Regions from separate parts of the Homo sapiens genome. Here all the other regions are reported to be linked to region 3. The links are microRNA targets in miRTarBase. Many come from high-throughput screens and were not tested one by one. Region 3 holds a microRNA gene; each other region holds the end of a gene's coding sequence.

Region 1 (4,000 bases), not on the chromosome of region 3:
TTCTGCTTTTCCCAAGCTTTTTCTGTCCATAAAACCAACCGCGGGCCGGGTGCAGTGGCTCACACCTATAATCCCAGCACTTTGGGAGGCCAAGGTGGGCAGATCACGAGATCAGGAGTTCGAGACCAGCCTGGCCATCCTGGTGAAACCCCCGTCTCTACTAAAAATACAAAAAATTAGCCAGGCATGGTGGCGCATACCTGTAATCCCAGCTACTTGGGAGGCTGAGGCAGAATTGCTTGAACCCAGGAGGTGGAGGTTGCAGTGAGCCAAGATAGCGCCACTGCTCTCCAGCCTGGGCGACAGAGGGAGACTCCTTCTTAAAAAAAAAAAAAAAAACCCGCCTTGGCTGGCTCATCCAAACACTTATTCTGTTTTTCTGTTTTTGTTTTTGAGACCGAGTTTCGCTCGTTGCCCAGGCTGGAGTGCAATGGCACGATCTCGGCTCACTGCAACCTCCGCCTCCCGGGTTCAAGCGATTCTCCCGCCTCAGCCTCCCGAGTAGCTGGAATTACAGGTTCGCATTGCCACACCCACCTAATTTTTTGTATTTTTAGTACAGACAGGGTTTCACCATGGCCAGGCTGGTCTTGAACTTCTGACCTCAGGTGATCTGCCCGCCTCGGCCTCTCAGAGTGCTGGGATTACAGGCGTGAGCCACCACGCCGGGCCACTTATTCTGTTTCATGGGATGAAGTGTTGCTCAATTCTAGAATACCAAATAAGCCAATTAAGATTTTTAAACTAAATGTGTTGTAATTTTGTCTTTTGACAGTGCCATTGTACAGGTGATTCACTACTCCACCACTCCACTCACCTACTCACAATGACGGTTTTCAACATTTCAGGAACGGTTTCTACCTTAGGCTCAGAGCAATTCCTACTTCTCCCTCATGAGGAATTGGAGGAGGTGGTGATAAAATTCTTCATCTGGTTGTGAGGTGGTATTTCACACAACTCCTTGATAAATATTGGAGGTGATACTGGATACAGGAAAACTTACAATAATCAGATTGTTACAGGTAGTTAGGCATCAACAGGGCAGCAGAGGGCTCTCTCCCGACCCACTAGAAATGTCAGGTGATGGTTCAGCAATTAACAAATTGCCTCTCTAAGAATGAGAATTCGGCAGCCAGGGAGAGACAATCTCTTGATGGTCCACACCTGTTAACATTAAAAGTGTTAATTGAATACAGCCCCCCAAGCAGCAGCTTCTTGGGCACCCGTGTTAAGAGACAAATGGCGAAGTATAGGCCGGGCACGGTGGCTCACACCTATAATCCCAGCACTTTGGGAGGCTGAGGTGGGTAGATCACCTGAGGTCAGGAGTTCAAGACCAGCCTGGCCCACATTTTATATTTTTTGTATTTTTAGTCTCTACTAAAAATACAAAAATAGGCATGGTGGCACGTGATGGCGTGCGCCTTTAGTCCCAGCTACTCAGGAGGTTGAGAAAGAAGGATCACTTGAGCTTGGGAGGTGGAGGATACAGCGAGCTAAGATCATGGCACTGTACTCCAGGCTGGCTGACAGAGACTCCAAAAAAAAAAAAAAAAAGAAAAGAAAGGCCGGCACCGTGGCTCATGCCTGTAATCCCAGCACTTTGGGAGGCTGAGGCGGGCGGATCACGAGGTCAAGAGATCGAGACCATCCTGGCTAACACGGTGAAACTCTGTCTCTACTAAAAATACAAAAAATTAGCTGGGCGTGGTGGCGGGCGCCTGTGGTCCCAGCTACTTGGGAGCCTGAGGCAGGAGAATGGCATGAACCCGGAAGGTGGAGCTTGCGGTGAGCCGAGATCATGCCACTGCACCCCAGCCTGGGCGACAGAGCAAGACTCCATCTCAAAGAAAAAAAAAAAGGAATTTATAATTATATATTATTCTGTATCTTTATATATTAATTATATATTCTATAATTTTTTTGAGATGGAGTCTTGCTCTGTCTCCCAAGTTGGAATGCAGTGGTGCAATCCCAGCTCAATGCAACCTCCACCTCTGGGGTTCAAGCGATTCTCCTGCCTCAGCCTCCGGCGTAGCCAAGACTACAGGTGCATGCCACCATGCCCGGCTAATTTTTGTACTTTTTGGTAGAGATGGTGTTTCACCATGTTGGCCAGTCTGGTCTTGAACTCCTGACCTCAAGTGATCCTCCTGCCTTGACCTCCCAAAGTAATGGGATTATAGGTATGAGCCACCACGCCAGGCTATATTCTATAAATTCTAAAGAGAATGAAAAGGACTTGCCAAGCTTCCTTTGGGAGATACTAAATTTGTTTTTTTTTTTTTTTTGAGACGGAGTCTCGCTCTGTCACCCAGGCTGGAGTGCAGTGGCTTGATCTTGGCTCACTGCAAGCTCCGCCTCCTGGGCTCACACCATTCTCCTGCCTCAGCCTCCTGGGACTACAGGTGCCTGCCACCACACCCGGCTAATTTTTTTTTTTTTTTTGTATTTTTAGTAGAGACAGGGTTTCACTGTGTTTGCCAGGATGGTCTCGATCTCCTGACCTTGTGATCCACCCGCCTCAGCCTCCCAAAGTGCTGGGATTACAGGCGTGAGCCACCACCCCTGGCCCAAATTTTTTTTTTTTTTTTTTTGAGACAGTGTCATACTATGTCATCCATACTGGAGTGCAGTGGCACCATCATTGCTCACTGCAGCCTTGACCTCCCTGGGCTCAGGCGATCCTCCCACCTCAGCTTCAGGAGTAGCTGGGACTACTGGTGTGTACCACCATGCCTGGCTAATTTTTGTATTTTTAGTAGAGACAGGGTTTTGCCATGTTGCCCAAGCTGGTCTCAAACTCCTTGGCTCGTGATCCTCCTGCCACGGCCTCCCAAGTGCTGGGATTACAGGCATGAACCACTGTGCCTGGCCTAAATTTACTTTTATAACAATTACTTTTTAAAATGTCAGAACTTCCTTATAATTACACACATATATTTTTATACAAATGCACAAAGGTAATCACATCTTATCTGGATTTCTGTGTGCACCTTTTCTTAAAAATGTTAACAATCACATATAACCTCGTAGAAATTGTTTTCGTTTGCAGATGCCTCCTTTTTCATAAAATTATGTCCTTGTTTTATAATGCTGTCTTTTCCAATATAGCTGGGATCACGCCACTGCACTCCAGCCTGGGTGACAGAGCAAAACTCCATCTTGGAAAAAAAAAAAAAAAAGAAAGAAATATAATTGGTGATGCTTCTGAAGAGAAAATCCTTTGTGGTTCTTCATATTCCTAACTTGCATGACACTCTTGCTCAAAGAAGGATACCTGCTCCTAAAACCCGTCTACCAGCGGGTCTGGCTACTGTTGCTGTGGATTCCTGGGCAATACCAATCCTGCTCAACGCTTTGGATGTCCCACTCTGCCTCAACTCCAATCGGCCTCTATCATTGCAAACAGTTGGCTGAGCCTTTTCTTAATGTCCAGTTCATTTGGAGCAGGACAGGATTTTGTGTGTACTCTGATGTGCTCCGCAAGCTTAGACTTGTAAATGAAGCCCTTCCCACAATCGCCACAGGCAAAGGGCCTCTCGGGCCTGTGGATGCGCTGGTGCCTCAGCATGTGTCCCCTTTCCCGGAAGTTCTTGTCACACTCAGGGCAGTGAAAAGGCCTCTCCCCTGTGTGCAGGCCCTGATGGCTGAGCAGCTGCGCCTTCAGGCGGAAACTCTTGTCACACTTGGGACACTGAAAAGGCTTCTCTCCCGTGTGCGTTCTGATGTGCTCGATGAGCTTTGAGTGTTTCACAAAGCCCTTGCCGCACTCACAGGAGAAAGGCATCTCCCCGCTGTGCAGCAGCTGGTGGGCCTTCATGTCGGCCTTCACGCGATAGCGCTTGTCGCACTCCGGACACTGGAAGGGCCTCTCTCCCGTGTGCAGGCGCTGATGGCTGAGCAGCTGCCCCTTCAGGCGGAAGCTCCTGTTGCACTCTGGGCACTGGAAGGGTCTCTCCCCGCTGTGCACGCGCAAGTGCTCCGTGAGCTTGGATTG
Region 2 (6,498 bases), not on the chromosome of region 3:
TAGGAGGCCGAGGCAGGTGGATCACCTGAGGTCAGGAGTTCGAGAGCAGCCTGGCCAACATGGTAAAATCCTGTCTCTACTAAAAATTAAAAAATTAGTCAGGCGTGGTGGCACGCACTCAAACCCAGGAGGCAGAGATTCAGTGAGCTGAGGTCATGCCACTGCACTGCAGCCTGGACAACAGAGCAAGACTCTGTCTCAAAAAAAAAAAAAAGTTAGCTGCACATGGTGGTGCACACCTATAGTCCCAGCTACTTGGGAAGCTGAGGTGGGAGGACTGCTTGAAGTTGCAGTGAGGCTATGATAGTGCCACCGCACTCCAGCCTGAGTGACAGAGGGAGACCTTGTCTCAAATAAAAAGTCTCATGGTTGTGTCTCAGAAAATCAGGTGTTCACTGTGCTGTTGGCTGATGTTTTCTCAGCATCCACTTTGTCAAGCTCTCAATTACATTTACACTAGATATTACCCTGGTTAGGACCTGGTCACTGCCTTTAAGAACCTGTATGATTGGGAGGCCGAGGCGGGTGGATCATGAGGTCAGGAGATCGAGACCATCCTGGCTAACACGGTGAAACCCCGTCTCTACTAAAAATACAAAAAAATTAGCCGGGTGTGGTGGCAGGCGCCTGTAGTCCCAGCTACTCGGGAGGCTGAGTCAGGAGAACGGCATGAACCCGGGAGGCGGAGCTTGCAGTGAGCCGAGATCAAGCCACTGCACTCCAGCCTGGGCGACGGAGCCAGAGTCTGTCTCAAAAAAAAAAACAACCTGTATGAAATATGATTTAACATATAGTTAATTTCATTAAAATAACCATGGATTTTATTAGTTGAAAAAATTGGTCTATATGTAAGTCTCTGTGTCTCGACTACATAATACTCTTAAGAATTTCCTTTTTAGTTAATATTAGTTTGCTACAATTTGAGTCTTAATGATGTTCCATACTATGTTTTGTGTGTTATTTAATTCTCAGAATAACCTTTTAAAGTCAGTACCATTGTCCCCATTTTACAGATGAAAAAGGCTTAAAGAGGTTAAGCTTGTCTGAGATCACTTGAAAGTAAGCATGTCTTGAAGACGTGCTAGATAGCACGAGGGGTTTTGTTTTGTTTTTTTGGAGACAGTTTCGCTCTTATCACCCAGGCTGGAGTCCAGTGGCACAATCTCAGCTCACTGCAACCTCCGCCTTCCGGATTCAAGCAATTCTCATGCCTCATCATCCAGAGTAGCTGGGATTACAGGTACATGCCACCATGCCTGGCTCATTTTTGTATTTTTAGTAGAGACGGAGTTTCACCATGTTGGCCAGGGTGGTCTGGAACTCCTGACCTCAGGTGATCTGCCTGCCTTGGCCTCCCAAAGTGCTGGGATTATAGGCATGAGCCAGTGGGCCTGACCAGCTCAGGTTAATAATAAGCACTTTAATAATTGCTAGATTTGTAAAAAGAAACATTTGGAAGACAACACCTTAAAATCGAGGAAACTGGATTAACTTTTCCTGGGTGAGTTGAGGTGCTGCTGTGCATTTTGCTTTTCTTGGTTCTGTGGTCACCACTTATACTTGCTATTAGTCACCTATATTAATCTGATCAAGTTTACATTGTTTTATCTCCTAACTGTCAAAAACTTTGTTGTTGTTGCCTCCATTGGCAATAATCTAAGCAAAATGCCTTTCCACTGTCCTAAAGTCAATTTTTGTTACTGTACAGAGGAGGAAGAAGGTGGGAAAGGTGAAAAGAGGAAGAGAGAAACAGATGATGAAGGAGAAGATGATTAAGACCCCAGATGACCTGCAGAAACAGAACTGTTCAGTATTGGTTGGACTGCTCATGGATTTTGTAGCTGTTTAAAAAAAAAAAAAAGGTAGCTGTGATACAAACCCCAGGACACCCACCCACCCAAAGAGCCAAAGAATAGTTCCTGTGACATTCCGCCTTCCTTCCATGTAGTCCCTCTTGGTAATCTACCACCAAGCTTGTGGACTTCACCCCAACAAAATTGTAAGCGTTGTTAGGTTTTTGTGTAAGATTCTTGCTGTAGCGTGGATAGCTGTGATTGGTGAGTCAACCGTCTGTGGCTACCAGTTACACTGAGATTGTAACAGCATTTTTACTTTCTGTACAACAAAAAAGCTTTGTAAATAAAATCTTAACATTTTGGGTCTGTTTTTTCATGCTTTGCTTTTTAATTATTATTATTATTTTTTTTACATTAGGACATTTTATGTGACAACTGCCAAAAAAGTATTTTTAAGAATTTAAGCGAAATAAACAGTTACTCTTTGGTAAAGCCTAGTTGTATGCTTACATTTTTAAATTATACTCTCATTGTAAGCTCATGTTAAAACACCAAAGAACTGGTTTATTTGGCATTTTTATATTAGTAGTTGTTGAGGGGAATTGCACAAGTGTGTAGGATCTTTGAGCATTTAGATCAAATCCTCATTGATAACTGGGAGTAAATGAAGCATACTTTAAAAAATAACGTTCAAAATGGAATACTCTGGGGCCCTGAAAACCAGTAAAATGTTAGGTTCAAGTATTATGTGAATTAAGGGAAAGAAGATAGTGTAAAGCAAAAGGCCTTCACCAGAATCCCAAGAGATCTGAATTCTAGTTCTGGCTCTGCCACTGATTTTCTGTGTGACCTTGTGTTGACTCTGGGTCACCACCCAGTCTGGAAAATTGAAGGGGTGTGACCAAATGGCTTCTGAAGTCACTTGTAGCACTGATGTTCTGTGACCCTTGCTGACAGGAAGGTCTGAAGAGAAAAATGGGCTTTCCACTAGTCTGAAGCATGTAGGGTTTGACTGATGGGTGAACACAGTATGGTTTGTTGCCAAGACAGGCGTGAAAAGGGGGAATGACATGTGAAAAGCCTCACCAAGCAGTGGGTAGGCACTGCCTGAGGTCAACTCAGGTTTTCCATAAGATGGAAATTTTCTCTATTCTTACAGATCTTAAAGGGATTTGAGAAAGGAGGATATTCTGTCTGTATTCAGTGATTAACCGTTTAGCGAAAATAGATGTATGACTGCATTATCAATACAGTTTTTTATAGTGGAAGATTTAAGGATTGTTTCAGTAAATTTTAGCTTATAGCTGCTGGAATGAGTGAGGTTTTTGATGCATGTAAATGCAATATGTAAAATTGGAATCTAATTTGAATTTATAACAAGTCACAGTCTCTATGGAGCCCCCAAATACTGTACTTTAAAATCAAAATCTCCCATAGACTTTAAAATGGAGTTTCTTTTTTGCAAAGAAAATCCAAGAAAATTTGATTTCTGATTTTACAGGTATTACACATCATTTTCCCCAACCATAAGGCCATTTTGGCAAACCTTCAATACATTGTAAAATGGTTTCTTCTGTAGCCTAAGTGTGTCCTTAAGGTTTTGCTTATTTGTCAAATATCAAACACAGTAACTTTGAGTGATTATTTTTCCCGGTTTGTTGTTGTTGTTGTTGTTTTTAGTTGTTTTTTAAAGTTTACAGAACTTCCCAGTATCTACCAAGCCTGTAGGATATGCCAGGCTTATTGGCTGGGCAAAAGGGAAGGGAATTGGGTTAAAAAGACAAGCCAGCCCTTGGTGCTCATAGTAACTAGTCAGGAAGAAAAGACATCAACACAAGTAATATTTACTAGGACCTAGGAGCAAGAGGTTTAGGTAAGTTTTAGTGTAGCTCAGAGGCTGGAGAGATGGCACCCAACCTGGAGGGAGGGAAGCTTCTTAGAAAAGAAAGTACTTCAGCTGCACATGCAAGTGTGAATAGCGTCTATAAATAGGAATAGAGAGAGAAGGGAGTATCTTGGTGAGCAGAGGTTAAAGGTAGGAAACTGCTGAGTACAGTTAGATACAAGTAGATTTGACAACACATGAATAGATGATAATACTGGACAAGTCATTTGGGCTCTTGTAGGGGGCCTTGAAGGTCAAAGCCTTTTTGTGCATTATAGTAAAATATTGATGTCACCTGTATGTGGCCAGTGAAGATGCCTTTGACATGGTCCTCAGAGAAGCAAGCTGTTTGGTGATGAGGTCACACAGCAGACTATTTTTGGAGTTGTCTCCCATCTGAAGGAGAACATTGAGAGGGTTTGCTTCCAGCTTCTGCAGTAAGTTTAGTTATAAAATGTCTGAGCTGGGTGGCAGCTATGATGGGCTAGATGACTGGTCCTGACTAGCTGCTCCGAGGTTGGTGGAGGTGTGTTCTACATACACACCTACATGTGTGATACATTGGTATGCCATCTTTTTGAAGCTATTTTCTTTTTTCTTTTTTTTTTTTTTTTGAGATGGGAGTCTTCGCTGTCGCCCAGGCTGACATGTAGTGGCACAATCTTGGCTCACTGCAACCTCCGCCTCCTGGGTTCAAGCAATTCTCCTGTCTCAGCCTCCCGAGTAGCTGGGACTACAGGCGCCCGCCACCACGCCTGGCTAATTTTTGTATTTTTAGTAGAGACGAGGTTTCAACATACTGGTCAGGCTGGTCTTGAACTCTCCTGACCTCAGGTGATCCACCCACCTTGGCCTCCCAAAGTGCCAGAATTACAGGTGTGAGCCACTGTGCCCGGTCCATGGCGCCCTGTTTTCAACCTCTGCTCTTACCTTTAGTTCACTCCTCTTTCAGGAGTCCAGCACCTGAAGAATGATAGTGGCCAGCGTGGAAATGCACAAACCACCTTGTGTAAGATACTGCACCCTACCCGCTCCTGTATCACCACCACCAGGACTCCTGGTACATACTCCAGGACAGATACAGGAGAGTTGAGTCGTCCTGTTCCTGGCATTCCTATCTGGGCTACACTACCTACCCCATCGCCAGAGAAAGGTGAGACAGAAGCACAAAGTGGTTGTACACTATGCTATGACCTTCCAGTTTTCTCCAGCTCTGTTGCATTGTGCTGCCATCAATTTTAATGAGCCTGATGATACCGCCGTGTTGACAGTTTGGAAAGGGAATCAAGTTACTAGTAGACTTAAGCTGCAGCCAGCCAAACAGTTGCTCTGCAGGAAAATCACCAAGATTGCAGTGAGTGTGGAAGTCCTCAGAGCCAATTAGGTCAGCTTAATAATCTCTGATCAAGTGGGTATTTTATAACTTGTCCCAGGGGTGTTGGGAGGGCATATGGAGAAAATACCCTTATTCTATTGCTTTTTGTTGTTGGAGACGGTCTGACTCTGTCACCCAAGCTGGAATACACTGGCACAATCATGGTTCACTGCATGCTCGACCTGGGCACAAACAATCCTCCCACCTCAGCTGAGTAACTGGGACTATAGGTGCGTGCCACCATGCCTGGCTAAATATTTTTGGTAGCGATGAGGTCTCACTATGTTGCACAGGCTGGTTTCAAACCCCTGGGCTCAAGTGATCCTCCTGACTTGAACTCCCAAAGTGCTGGGATTACAGGCATGAGCCACTGCACCTGGCCAGAGTTAACTCTATTTCTGATTAAGGGGACTTGACCCCTGGCCAGGAGGGGCCTGGGGTCTCTGTGTTTAAGACAGCACTCCCCAGCGCCAGCCCTGGCAGAGGAAGAGTGGAGGTATGGGGAGGGAGGCCTCAAACAGAATCTAGAGATCATATTCTAGCCCCAACCTGGCCACTGAATGGTATTTGCTCCCCTCTGTCACTTCCCCTCTGAGCCTCCAGTTCCTCAACTGAAACTCCGAGGCCCAAGCTAAGTGAGCCTGCAGGTTGTTTCAGCTGTACAAATCTGCATGTGGTTCACCGTGAGCCTAACCAGCAATAGGAATACTAATTGTATTTCATGCCGTTACTCCCAGTTACCCTCTGAAGGAGTAGGTAAGGGTTTGGGCTAGTAGAAAATGTCAGAGCTATGTTTAGGCTGATGGAATTGAAAAGGATAGACCAGTAGCATGGGGCCAGATGAGTGCTGCACTTTCAGTGAAGGAGGTGTCTTCCAGAAATTGCCACAGGTATATACATAAGTTGGCCAGACTAGTCAGTCATCTAGTAGCATTACAGATGCAGGTTAGTACATACATCTGCCATTGATGGCCATTTACTGAGAGGAATTTAGTCTTCAACTTCCCTGAAAAATAACCTATAATCCCCTTTTATGGATGTGGAAACTGAAGGATTTAGAGGTGAAGTGCCCTATCCAATGTCATGTAGCTAGTAATGATGACCAGGCTGGGATCCAAACCCAGCTCTGCCCAAACCCAAAGCTGCTGTATGTTGCCATATATCCCTCCCTAGGGCCCTTGCTCCTGGCTCAGTTCTGATGAGAAAGTCAGTGGACTTATTTCTCCCTTAGTCCAAAGCAGGGAGCAAAGTAGACACTAGCTAACAAGACTCATTGGTTCCAAAGGTTCAGGACAGGGCGTGAACAGAACTAGTTGTCAGAGTTGGAACCATAAAATGCTTAGGGACACAGGCAAACAGCGAGCACTGTAAATACAACTGGCTGGGCATGGTGTCTCACGCCTGTGATCCCAGCACTTTGGGAGGCTGAGGTGGGTGGATCA
Region 3 (6,498 bases):
CTGCTTCCTGGGGGCCTCAATCGTTTCTCTAAAGGCCTTCCACTGACTGGATGAGGCCCACTCACATGATGGGGGGTAATCTGCTCCACTGATTTAAATGTTAATCTCATTCCAAAATATCTTCTCAGCAGCGTCTAGACTGTTGGTTGACCAGACATTTGGGCACCGCAGCCTAGCTGAGTTGACATAAAGTTAGCCATCACCAGGGCCTGCAGATCCAGTAACAGGCTTGAAAGGAGCAGATACTCTCTGATTGCAACGCATTTGTGCTGCAGTTACCTGGATCCCCTCACCTAGGGTTTACTGTGATTTTTGTCTTAATTTCTCTGTCATAGGAACAGCACAATTATATGTGCACTATATTCTTAACTTTAAAAGACTTAATTTGTTAAATATAAACTTTAGGATTTTAAGGAGACCCAACAAAAATCACTTCTCTCCTCCACCTGACTTCTAGACATCAATTAAGAAATAAGTCTGTACACAAATGCCAAAAGTTTACCTATATTACTAAATAAGCTTATTTTAGAGAATGCAGCATACATTTGCAGACAAGTGATCTTCCTAATACTCTACTGATTTAGGCTAACTTCCCCTCCCAGTCACTGGCAGCTCTTGACCTAAGCCTTCCCTAGCAGGAGGAGGAAGGAGCAACCCTTCTAGACCATGGAGTAGAAGATCACAGAGAAATGCCTGGAGAGCAGAAGAGGAGCTGTCCAAGCCCAGCTCCTTCAAGCTCAACAAGATGGTAAATCATGCCACTTGTTATGCTAATGTGATTTCTTCTTCCACATAAGTGAAGGCATCAAGGATGGGGTTGGGGTATTTCCTCTAAACATAAAATATTCCACTCTTTTTATAATCCTGTTTTGACTGCTTCTCCCCCCCTTCTCTTCTTTCTCCTCCTCATCTTCCTCCTCGTCCTCCTCATCTTCCTCCTCCTCCTCCTTATCTTCCTCTTCCTCCTTGTTCTCCTCTTCCTCCTTGTCTTCCTCCTCCCTCCTTGTCCTTCTCCTCCTGCTCCTTGTCTTCCTCCTCCTCCTTATCTTCCTCCTCCCTCCTTGTCCTTCTCCTCCTGCCCCTTGTCTTCCTCCTCCTCATCTTTCTCCTCCTCCTTATCTTCCTCCTCCTGCTTATCTTCTTCCTCCTCCTCCTCATCTTCCTCCTCCTCCTCTTCCTCCTCTTCCTTCTCTTCCTCCTCATCTTCCTCCTCCTCCTTGTCTTCCTTCTCCCTCCTTGTCCTTCTCCTCCTGCTCCTTGTCTTCCTCCTCCTCCTCCTCCTCGTCTTCTTCCTCCTCCTTCTCCTTGTCTTCTTCCTCCTCCTCATCTTCCTCCTCCTCCTTGTCTTCTTCCTCCTCCTTCTCCTTGTCTTCCTCCTCATCCTCCTTGTCTTCCTCCTCCTCCTCATCTTCTTCCTTCTCCTCCTCATCTTCCTCCTCCTCTTCTTCCTCCTCCTCTTCCTCCTCCTCCTCTTCCTCCTCCTCCTCTTCCTCCTCTTCCTCCTCCTCTTCCTCCTCCTCTTCCTTCTCCTCATATTGCTCCTCCTCCTCCTTGTCTTCCTCCTCCTCCTCCCTTATGAGAAGCTTCAGAAACAGAAATGTGCAGGGCCTCCCTGGCCAAGCTAAATGTTCTGGGCAGTCCAAGAGCAAGAGTGAAGCATGGAAGTGGTGCATTGTCCCAAGCTTGGTGTTAACCTGAGCCATGTGGTGGAACATCAGAGAAATGAAATGACTGACCTTGAAGCCCAGAGGGGGACGAGAGACTGGAGAGACCAGCATTCTCTGTGAGATTGAACAATAAAGTTAATAGGTGTGAGGAAGCGGGAGGGAAGGGGAGAAATTAGCTTCACTGAGCATCAGCTGTGTTGCTAGGTGCTTTCAGTCATATGCAGCCCACCTTACAATCCTGCAAAATACTATGTCACAGACAAAGAATATAAGGCTCAGAAATATAATTTACCTGAGGTCACACAGCCAGCAAGTGGCAGAGCCAACTTTTAAACCCAGATCTCTGCTTCTAAAACTTGCCCCCATTTCCCCATTAGATTAGCTGCTTCCAGGGACATAAGAAAGGTAGAAAATGGAAGGTTACAGAGCAAAGGGGATTATAATGCTTAAGTTTTCAGAGCTGGAGCACTTCCCACTGAAGACAAAGTCAAGGATGTGGTCATGGGGGTGGGTTGCTGAACTGGATGGAAGTCAAGATCTTTGGAGTAGAGAAGGGCAAGAACATATAGGGCTCATGTTGGATGGGCCATCAGCATCGACTGTGATGGTTTACTAGGCGGGGCTGAATAGAGGTGAGTATGCATGCAAGGTAGAAACCCCTGAACAGATGCTGTGGGGAGAACTAGAGATTGGAGGACATGGAATGATGGGCACAGACCCCACAGCTTGGTGATGGTAGCCATGGAACTATTGTAAATGAACAATCCCAAAGCGACTGCAGAATTCTGAGTTTTTCCTCTTTTTCCTGATTTTCTCAGCAAAGCATATGTTGCCATTTCACTGTCATCTTCTTACACTTCACTGCAGAAGAACTACATAATTTGAAAGATTATTTAAATTATTTTTCTGGTAAAGAAAAAAACTGTTTCTAACTTTTTGTATCATAAGGGATTTTTTTCAAGTATGGTTTTAAGAATTAGACAATTCTACTCTTAAGAGATGGGAACTGAGACCTTAATTCTCATAATTTGTAGTGACGAAGCTCTGTATGAGCCTTTATTACACATGGTAAAGACTTTCATGAATATGCCCAGGTGTCAGAAGTTGTTACTAGACTAACAAAGTAACTAGTAGTTGTAGTTACTTACACAGTAACTAGACAGTGCATGATTTATGCTCTAATGTTAAAAATAGTATTGTATCATGTGTTCAATAGATTCTGGCTAGGTCCCACATTGTATCTCTTACAGGGACTAATTTTACACAAAAACTGATTTTTTAAAAATGCTTCCATGTCTAACAGTCCTGATGGTAAACTCCAAATCATGGCTGGTTTGTTTGACACACCAGGAGTGCTAATTTATTTATTATATACACCAAGAGGAATATAAAGTTCGGTGGTTCGAATTAGATAATTTAGTGTCCCAAGATTGTTTATTTGATTGCCTTAGGCAGGACTTAAGGGTAACTAGAAAATTTGTACAGCTTACTCTGTGTATGTACAGTATGGAGGTCTGTTGCTTCCACCCTCTCCTTTTGCACACCTTTTGAGCAGTTTAGTACGTATTGCAATTTCTGCAGGAAGGTGGCCATGGTGAAGGCCTTGGGGAAATCCCTGCACCTTGAAAAGAATTTGGGATGTGGCTCTGTAGTAAGATGGACTTGCGGTTCAATCCCAGCTCAGGGCCTTTTTAAATTATTAGTAGTAGTAGTAGTCGGGAGACCTTGAGCAACATGCTTTATCTTGTATCTCAGTAACCCTTCCTGAAAGGATGAAATTATCCTTAAAAGATGAGTAAAGGAGATTGAAAATAATTTAGTTATTTAAAGTATTTTCAGGCCCTGCATGGTGGCACATGCCTGTAATCCCAACGCTTTGGTAGGCCAAGGCAGGAGGACTGCTTGGAGCCAGGAGTTTGAGACCAGCCTGGACAACAAGGTGAGACCCTGTCTCTATGGAAAAAATAATAATAATTAGCTGGTGTAGTGGTATGTACTTGTAGTTTCAGCTGCATGGGAGGCTGAGGCAGGAGGATGGCTTGAGGCCAGGAGTTCAAGCTATAATTGCACCACTGCACTCCAGCCTGAGCAACAGAGCAAGACCCTGACTCAATTGAAAAAAAAATTCAGTGATTTTCATATACATTATCTAATCTGAACCACTGATCTTCATATTCTCCTTAGTGTATATAATAAGTAATAAGCATTCCTGGTGTGTCAAACAAGCAGCAATGATTTGGGGTTCACCATCAGGACTATTAGGCATGGAAACCTTTAGAAAAAAATTATTAGTTTTTATTTAAAATTAGTCCCTGTAAGAGATACCATGTAGGACCTAGCCAGAATCTCTTGAACACAAGATAAAATGTGATACTTCATGTGTATAATACATCCAGATTTCTGGAGTTAGAAATACCAAAAATGCATATAGGCAGTTTTCATCCATAATGGAACGTAAACAATAGCCTAAATAAGTGAATATTTGCAGTTGCATCATGTAACCTTTTAACATTGCTGTGCAAATAGCTATTCATTTTTCAGCAGGTAAAACTGTACCACACAAGCAGAAAAGAAGGCCTGGTTAAGTTTATATTTTCTAAGAGAAGCCTTGCTAAAACAAAACAACCATACGTTTTAAGGTATCGCTTGATCAGCGACCTTTCTAAATAGATAGGGCAATATAAGTCACAATTTGCTTAGGATGCTTTGGGCCACTAATAATAACAGACTCAGAAATGGTCTAATACATTTCTAATAAATGAGCAAAATGCATTCACAGCCGGGCACGGTGGCTCATGCCTGTAATCCCAGCATTTTGGGTAGCCAAGGCAGGCAGATCATTTGAGATCAGGAGTTTGAGACCAGCTTGGCCAACACGGTGAAACCCCATCTCTACTAAAGTGAAAAAAAAAAAATGAGCCAGGTGTGGTGCCATGTGCCTGTAACCCCAGCTACTCAGGAAGCTGAGGCAGGAGAACTGCTTGAACCCAGGAGGCAGAGGTTGCAGTGAGCTGAGATCATGCCACTGCACTCCAGCCTGGGCGACACAGTAAGACTGTCTCAAAAATAAAATAAATAAAATAAAATAAAATAACGCATTCACTTATGAAGTACAGAGATAGGGCTGTTCCAGGATTCACTAATTTGGCAACTTAACAACAGAAGCATTACCTCCTTTCAGTTCTGCCTTCTCAGATCGACTCCCCTTGTGCTCACAAGGTGGCTGCCAATAATCTGGGTATCACATGTAGTTATGACTTCATGAAGTCAGAGAAGATGCTGTTTCTTCCCATGCATCCCTTTATCAGCAGACACATATAATAGTAGTCTCCCAGTAAACTTCCCTTTCTCTCTCACTGGCCAGAATTGCCTTGTGTGCTCATTTCTGGCAGGGGATGGAATCACCATGCTGTGCTTATACCAGTCAAGGTTGACCCACTGGGGCTAGGGAGGGGTCTAACCTTCCTTGATGCACACAGCCACCAGATATCTGAATAAAAATGGGGTTCTGTTAGCAAGAAAGAAAGGAGAGTGGCCAACGGCTAGGCCATTGATAGTAACTACCACAGTAGCCAAGATACTTTGAAAGCATTGTTGTGATGTCTTTGATAACCCTTTTCAAGTTTATTTAAAGTCTGAAAGACTTTATATAACTGGCTTTACACTGAGAATTTCAGATAGCCTGGCCCACCACTGAGACCTATGCCCCTTTGCTCCAGTTACTTAATTTCTTGAATTCTGTTTCCATAAAATGTGGAAAGTCATAAAATCCCATAGAGGTTTCATGAGGATGAAACAAGACCATTCGTGGAAAGTGCTTAACTGAATGGCTTGCATATAATAAATGCTCAGTTAATGTTGTTATTCATTCTTCACTCTTTCTAAATGTCCTCCTGTGGCCAGTGGCCAACCCAAGGTCCAAGACTGAAAATCTGAGCCACAGGCCCGAGTCTTGTCTCTCTGTTGCCCTCACTCACATTCACGTTACCATCCTGTCCTCCCCCAGGTCTTATCCCACAGCCACAGGTCTAGACAGAGCCTTTAATTATGAGGTCGCCTCATGCAGGTATCTCCCTTCATATCCTCCATTCCCCCTACACATATGCCTAGGAGAGGGATCCTTAGAGAGTATTTATCCCTGCTCTGCTGATTGTTTGCAGTTAGATCAGTGGGTTTCCTCCACTCTTCCTGGGAGCCTAGGGATCTGAGTTCATGCTTAAGTAAGCCAAGCCGCATGGACCTCTTCCATATTTCATCCAAAGCAACACACTGCTCTATACTGTATATATTAGGGCTTTGCATTCGATTCTTGTGAAAAAGGAGTTCTGCTCCTTGTGGAAAGTGTGAAAAGCAATGGATTGGATGATGTCTCCAGTGGGGTATCAGGAACCTTCCAGAACCTCTCTCTGCTTTGCAAACTGTCTCCTATCTCATGCAAACTCCAAATGGCCTGAAGTCCCTCCCAAGTTGGCGCCTCCTTCTCTGTACTGTGCTTCTTTGACAGCCCAGCCTCCAAGAAATGCTTTCTGGGCCCCTGATGACAGGTGTCACACACACCAGCTACCTTGTTTCTAATGTCAACTGCTCCCTAGGCAATTGTCACCCTTCAAAGCTGTGCCCAACTCTTCATTACTCTGCAGAATTGTCACTATTCCATACTTATTGATAAACCCCTGCATTCAAACTCTATTTTCCACAGAGTACAAATTATTTTCAGCTGATCTGTATTCCAGAAGTTCTCACTGTGTGGTCCAGGGACCCCGGGGGTTCCTAAAAAACTATCCAGGGAGTCTGTGAGTCAAAACTGTTTTCACTCCCCTCCACTCCCCTC
Region 4 (5,433 bases), not on the chromosome of region 3:
AGAATACATACAGGGGAGAGACCCTACAAATGCAGTGAATGTGGTAAAGCCTTCATTCAGAGCATTTGCCTTATTCGGCACCAGAGAAGTCACACTGGAGAAAAACCCTATAAATGCAATGAATGTGGAAAGGGCTTTAATCAGAACACCTGCCTCACTCAGCATATGAGAATTCATACTGGAGAGAAGCCCTATAAATGTAAAGAATGTGGGAAAGCCTTTGCTCATAGCTCATCTCTTACTGAACATCATAGAACTCACACTGGTGAGAAGCTCTATAAATGTAGTGAGTGTGAGAAAACCTTCCGCAAGTATGCACACCTTAGTGAACATTACAGAATTCACACTGGTGAGAAGCCTTATGAGTGTATTGAGTGTGGAAAGTTCTTCAGACATAGTTCAGTCCTTTTCAGACATCAGAAACTTCACAGTGGTGACTAATGCTGCCATTTAGGTTATGACAGTTTCTCTAGCGAGGATGACTACGAATCTGACTGGGAGTAGAGGGGCAGGTAGAGTTCCTGGAGGGAAGGATGAAGGAGCCTTGGCTACTGTACTCTGAGAGGAATGTTTCCAGAAATGGAGGTGGGAGCTTAGGGAATGCAGAGCCTACTTGAGGTGGGCATCTGGGAATACAGGGTAGAAAGAAATTCCTGCTTTTCAGATAAAGCCTACACATTGCCACTGTCTCCCCATGTGACTCTTACAGCTTGAGGAGGCATTTGTTAGCACTTCTGTTCACTTTACTACATCCTGCCCCACATTCTGACTTGTCACCCATTTTCGTTGGCTGGCAGGTTGAGATGTTTTTCTTAAACACTGCCTGTCAGTGTGAAGTGGCACAGCTCTGATGTAGTGCTAAGTCTAGCCTCCAGATTTGAGGCAGCCCTGACCATGCTACCATGGGGGAGGCTCCCAACCTGTGGAAGTGGTCCTGTGAAAAGGAGACAGAAACAAGTAAGAGCCAAAAAAAAAAAAAAAAAAAATCCATATCCATTCATTAAAAAAATGAGATATAAAGCAACAACTGGGCTGACCTCTATAGATCTGCCAGTAAAGAAGGCTTTCTTTCATTATCAGGGTGAAGGTCTTTCCTGATTCTTCCAAGCTTTGAGGTGACTCAGAGCTAAGAATGAAATAGGAGACCAAGTTAGAATTCATGATACTGGTTTATGGGGAGGCAGTCATACCTGTTCAGAGAACCAGGAAGACTCAATATCTATCTCAGAGGAAATATGGTTACCCAGGAAAGAAATGGTCTGCTAGAGTGATAAGACTCAGAACAGGAAGCCTGCATGTGACTGAGCAAGTCACCTACATAACCCTGCCTGTACTAAGGTGTACACCTGTCTATTGTAAGTTTGCCTAGGCTGTTGGTGTACAGAGACCAGAGGAGAGAGACACACTAGGACTAACAATGTCCTAACAAAATGGTACTTAGTTTGTTGGTCTTTAGGAGAAAGCATTAGTAATGAAAGAAGAAAGAATTTTCACTTGGTTGGACATTGGGGCTCTTAAGAAAGTTGACATTTGTCGTGGAATGACTTTGGAAAGACTTCTAAAAGAATCTTTTTCAAATCCCTGAAAATCAGGATAGCACATTTTGCTACTGACTGTGACAGTGTTTTATTCTTTTGAGAGAAATGACATAGTTTTCCCTTTATTTCCCAAATTCCTTTCATGTTCTTAACTGCTACCCAGAAATTGAGCTTCAGAAGATTGAGGATAGCCTTTGATTGGTATTTAAAATAATTTCTAAGCTGTGAAGCTTATAGCATTTTTAAAGTATGGCTATTAAAAACACTAAGTTGATTCTGGAATGCTTGGTTATTTGGAACTCATCGTTTTTTTTTTTTGTTTTTGTTTTTTTTTTTTTTTTCTAGAGCAGTTGCCTTGTAGGGATAGGTTTGGGCCATGAATTACCATTAATGGGAGTATGGTATAAATATATATCTTTTTCACTTTCTATGAAGATTATGTTCTTAAAACCTACCACCAGTGAAGTCATAATTGAGAAAATTAATACACTATGGGTAAAAATAATGCTGTAAAACCTTTCTAAATATGTTTGTGAAAATATTATTTTACCAAAAGCAAAAATGTATTTATACCTCCTAGATAAAAACTGCATAATTAATTACTGGCACATAATACATGTTCAGTAAATATTTATTTCATGAGTTATATCAACTATTGCCCAACAGAACCTTTCTTGGAACTTCCTGATGAATAGTTATTTATAGCAATATTTGTACACCATCTTGAGAATTATGAGTGGAGATTAGAATAGGGAGAGTTTTCTTAAGAAAGAAACAAGAAAACTTTAAAGATATCTCAGGAGGCTGAGGCACAAGAATCACTTGAACCTGGGAGGTGGAGGCTGCAGCCAGCCGAGATTGTGCCTGTGCACTCCAGCCTGGGAGACAGAGTGAGACTTTTTCTAGAAAAAAAAAAAAAAATGATATCCATAAGTTCTTGTGGGAAAGATTTTCTCAAGTGAAACAGACTTGATCCTGAATTTTTCTCAGGCTGAGAAAATATGGCATGTTTTTACCTTCTGGGGAAACAGTTAAATAACTGTTCTTTCCACTACCCTGACCCCATATTCTTACACTTGGACTTATGTGCTCCCGATTTTCTCTCAGTTGCTGGCCCATGATGTACCTAGTCTCTCCAGCATGGCCCCAAACCTAGTCATTGCCCTCACCCTCAGTTTTCCCTCTTATTCAATCTTCATATCCATTCAACCACTATGTCCTGTTGAAGTTATCTCCTATCTCTGGAAGCCATCTCCACTGCAGTTATTGTAGTCCAGTCCCCTACTCCCTAATTTATTTTCTAGACTATTTTATTTTTAATTTTAATTTTTTTTTTTTGAGACAGGATCTCACTCTGTTGTCCAGGCTGGAATGCAATGGCATGGTCTCTGCTTACTGCAAACCCCCACCTCCCAGGCTCAAGCGATCCTCCCATTTCAGCCTCCCAAATAGCTGGGACTACAGGCATGTGCCACTATCCTTGGCTAATTTTTATATTTTTTTGTAGTGATGGGTTTCACCATGTTGCTCAGGCTGGTCTCGGACTCCTGGGCTCAAGCAATCTGCCTGCCTCAGCCACCCAAAGTGCTGGGATTATAGGCATAAGCCACTGTGCCTGGACTTCCTATTTTAAAATTTATCTACCAGTCTTCCAGTTTCTTGCCCCACTAGGCCATCTTTCACATTTCTTCTTGATCTTTATAAGCATAACTGGCTGCTTATTGTTTTCGGAATAAAGCACTAGTCCTTTAAAGAGGCAGGTGAGGCCCCTCATCTGACCCATGCCTGAATTGCCATCCTTAGCTGCCATTCCTTGCCTGGCATGTTCTATTCCATAGTTCAAATTCCTGTGATTCTGGAATATCACCTCTGGACTCTATTTTGGCACTTCCGCACATAGTGTTCCTATTGCCTCAGTTCCTTTTCCCTGCTTCTGCTTGCCTGCAAAACTCCCATTTTTCACTTACGAGTGTGCTCAGGCAATATCTCAAAGCTGTCTCTAACCTCATGTATTTTTTATTCTGTCTTGTATTTTTCATCATTTTATTATGTTACATTATAATGGTTTGTTCACACATCTTTCCCTTTGTCAGCTTTGCTAGGGAAGGAACAATGTGAAATTTCTTTACCTTTGTATCAACAGTGCCTGGTACTTAGGAGGTGCTCAATAAGCATTTGTTGAACTCAACTGAAGAGTCAGACATTTCTCTGTGCTAGTCTGCAGGTTGTGACTTAAGTCCCCAGTTGTCAGCAGGAAGGAGGCATGGTGAGTATGCGTGTCCACGAAGTGTCTGCCAGGAGCAACAGTTCTGAAACTTTCCCTAAGATTGTATTAAACAGAAGATCCCATAAGAAACAATATTTTTCAATTAGAGATTTAAAAGTCCTATCACAATTTAACTAAACGCTTTCAATTATATTGATGTCAGGGTCAACAGGAGGAAAATGCATGCAACTGCAGAAACACACCTGTGTCAACTGGAATACCTATGAAATAGCAGGAACTGAAGAGTAATGCTGGCCTAGCAGGAGGGCATTTGCAGTTTACAAATCCCAAACTGGGCCAGGCATGGTGGCTTGCACCTGTAATCCCAACTACTCAGGAGTCTGAGGTGGGAGGATTGATTCAGGCCAGGAGTTCAAGAGCATCCTGTGGAACATAACAAGACCTTGTCTAAAAAAAATAAATAAATAAATAAATAAATAAATAAATAAACCAGGTATGGTGGTGCATGCCTGTAGTCCTAGCTATTCTGGATGCTGAGCCTGAGGTGGAAGGATCGCTTGAGCCCAGGTGTTGGGAGCTGCAGTGAGCTAGCATCATGCCACTGCACTCTAGCCTGCGTATCAGAGAGTGAGACCCTCTCTCTTAAAAAAAAAAAAAAAAAAAAAAAAAAAAAAAAAAAAAGTACCAAAGTGGAAGCACTTCCTGAGATTTTGGGCCCTGGGATGATAAAGAATTTGAGTGTCTTGCTTATTGTGCACTGAAATTTAATTCATGACTTTAGAAGGACACAGATGGAGCCACGTCAGATCCTCAGAACAAAAGAGAAAAGATGTTGGGGTTGCTCAAGACCACACAACCAGTGTCAGATGAGGTTTAAACTGCAGTGTCCTTGCATTTCATTTACTTTTCCCTGTATTGGTCATACCTCTATTCCATATGCCTCTTTATTTTTTATAGAACTGACTACTTTTTTTTGTTTCTGAGATGGTTTCGGTCTGTTGCCCAGGCTGGAGTGCAGTAGCGTGATCCTAGCTCACTGTAGCCTAGACCTCCCAGGCTCAAGCGATTCTCTCACCTCAGCCTCCCAAGCAGTTGGGACTACAGGCGTGAGCTACCATGCCTGGCTAATTTTTAAAAAGTATTCTCTGGCCGGGTGCGGTGGCTCACGCCTGTAATCCCAGCACTTTGGGAGGCCAAGGCAGGCGGATCACAAGGTCAGGAGTTTGAGACCAGCCTGACCAACATGGTGAAACCCCGTCTCTACTAAAAATATGAAAATTAGCCAGGCATGGTGGCGCGTGCCTGTAATCCCAGCTACTAAGGAGACTGAGGCAGGAGAATTGCTTGAACCCAGGAGGCAGAGGTTGCAGTGAGCCAAGATCATGCCACTGCACTCCAGCCTGGGTGACAGAGTGAGAGTCTGTCTCAAAAAAAAGTTTTTTAATATTATTTTTTGGTACAGACAGATTCTTGCTATGTTACCCAGGCTCATCTCTAACTCCTGCCCTCAGATGATCCTCCTAACTCGGACTCCCTTACAGGCCTGAGCCACTGCATCCAGCCTAGAATTGACCACTTAGTGCTCCAATCTTTTCCTTATCCTGAGGATGTGAGGAGCTCACTTGTATAAGATTGAGAAGCTTTTTGTTCTCAAAATCTCAGACTTTC

The links. Region 3 holds the annotated microRNA hsa-miR-8057 (GUGGCUCUGUAGUAAGAUGGA, at 3,308-3,328, shown strand). A microRNA usually pairs through its seed, bases 2 to 8, with sites in the 3' UTR of a target mRNA and lowers its output. Matches are read on the target gene's strand: a 7mer-m8 pairs with bases 2 to 8, a 7mer-A1 pairs with bases 2 to 7 and ends in A, and an 8mer does both.
Region 1: miRTarBase lists ZNF786 as a target of hsa-miR-8057. Seed matches in the 3' UTR shown: 7mer-A1 at 2,808-2,814.
Region 2: miRTarBase lists ANP32B as a target of hsa-miR-8057. Seed matches in the 3' UTR shown: 8mer at 1,902-1,909.
Region 4: the mRNA of ZNF502 is a reported target of hsa-miR-8057. Seed matches in the 3' UTR shown: 8mer at 961-968.

The regions. Positions count from the first base shown.
Region 1 is chr7:149,067,044-149,071,043 of GRCh38, forward strand. It overlaps ZNF786 (zinc finger protein 786), which reads right to left. Exons shown (of 4, transcript NM_152411.4): 4 at 2,598-4,000. The coding sequence ends at 3,380. Among named protein-coding and RNA genes, the nearest start is that of ZNF786, 22 kb to the right of the region's middle.
Region 2 is chr9:98,013,656-98,020,153 of GRCh38, forward strand. It overlaps ANP32B (acidic nuclear phosphoprotein 32 family member B), which reads left to right. Exons shown (of 7, transcript NM_006401.3): 7 at 1,709-2,288. The coding sequence ends at 1,776. Among named protein-coding and RNA genes, the nearest start is that of ANP32B, 34 kb to the left of the region's middle.
Region 3 is chr18:26,588,335-26,594,832 of GRCh38, reverse strand. It overlaps MIR8057 (microRNA 8057), which reads left to right and starts at 3,298; the gene lies at 3,298-3,366. It also overlaps a transcript of KCTD1 not described here.
Region 4 is chr3:44,722,012-44,727,444 of GRCh38, forward strand. ZNF502 (zinc finger protein 502) reads left to right here. Exons shown (of 3, transcript NM_001134442.3): 3 at 1-1,820. The coding sequence ends at 441. LOC105377056 (a long non-coding RNA gene) reads right to left here. Exons shown (of 3, transcript XR_940788.4): 2 at 3,668-3,859. Among named protein-coding and RNA genes, the nearest start is that of ZNF501, 4.9 kb to the right of the region's middle.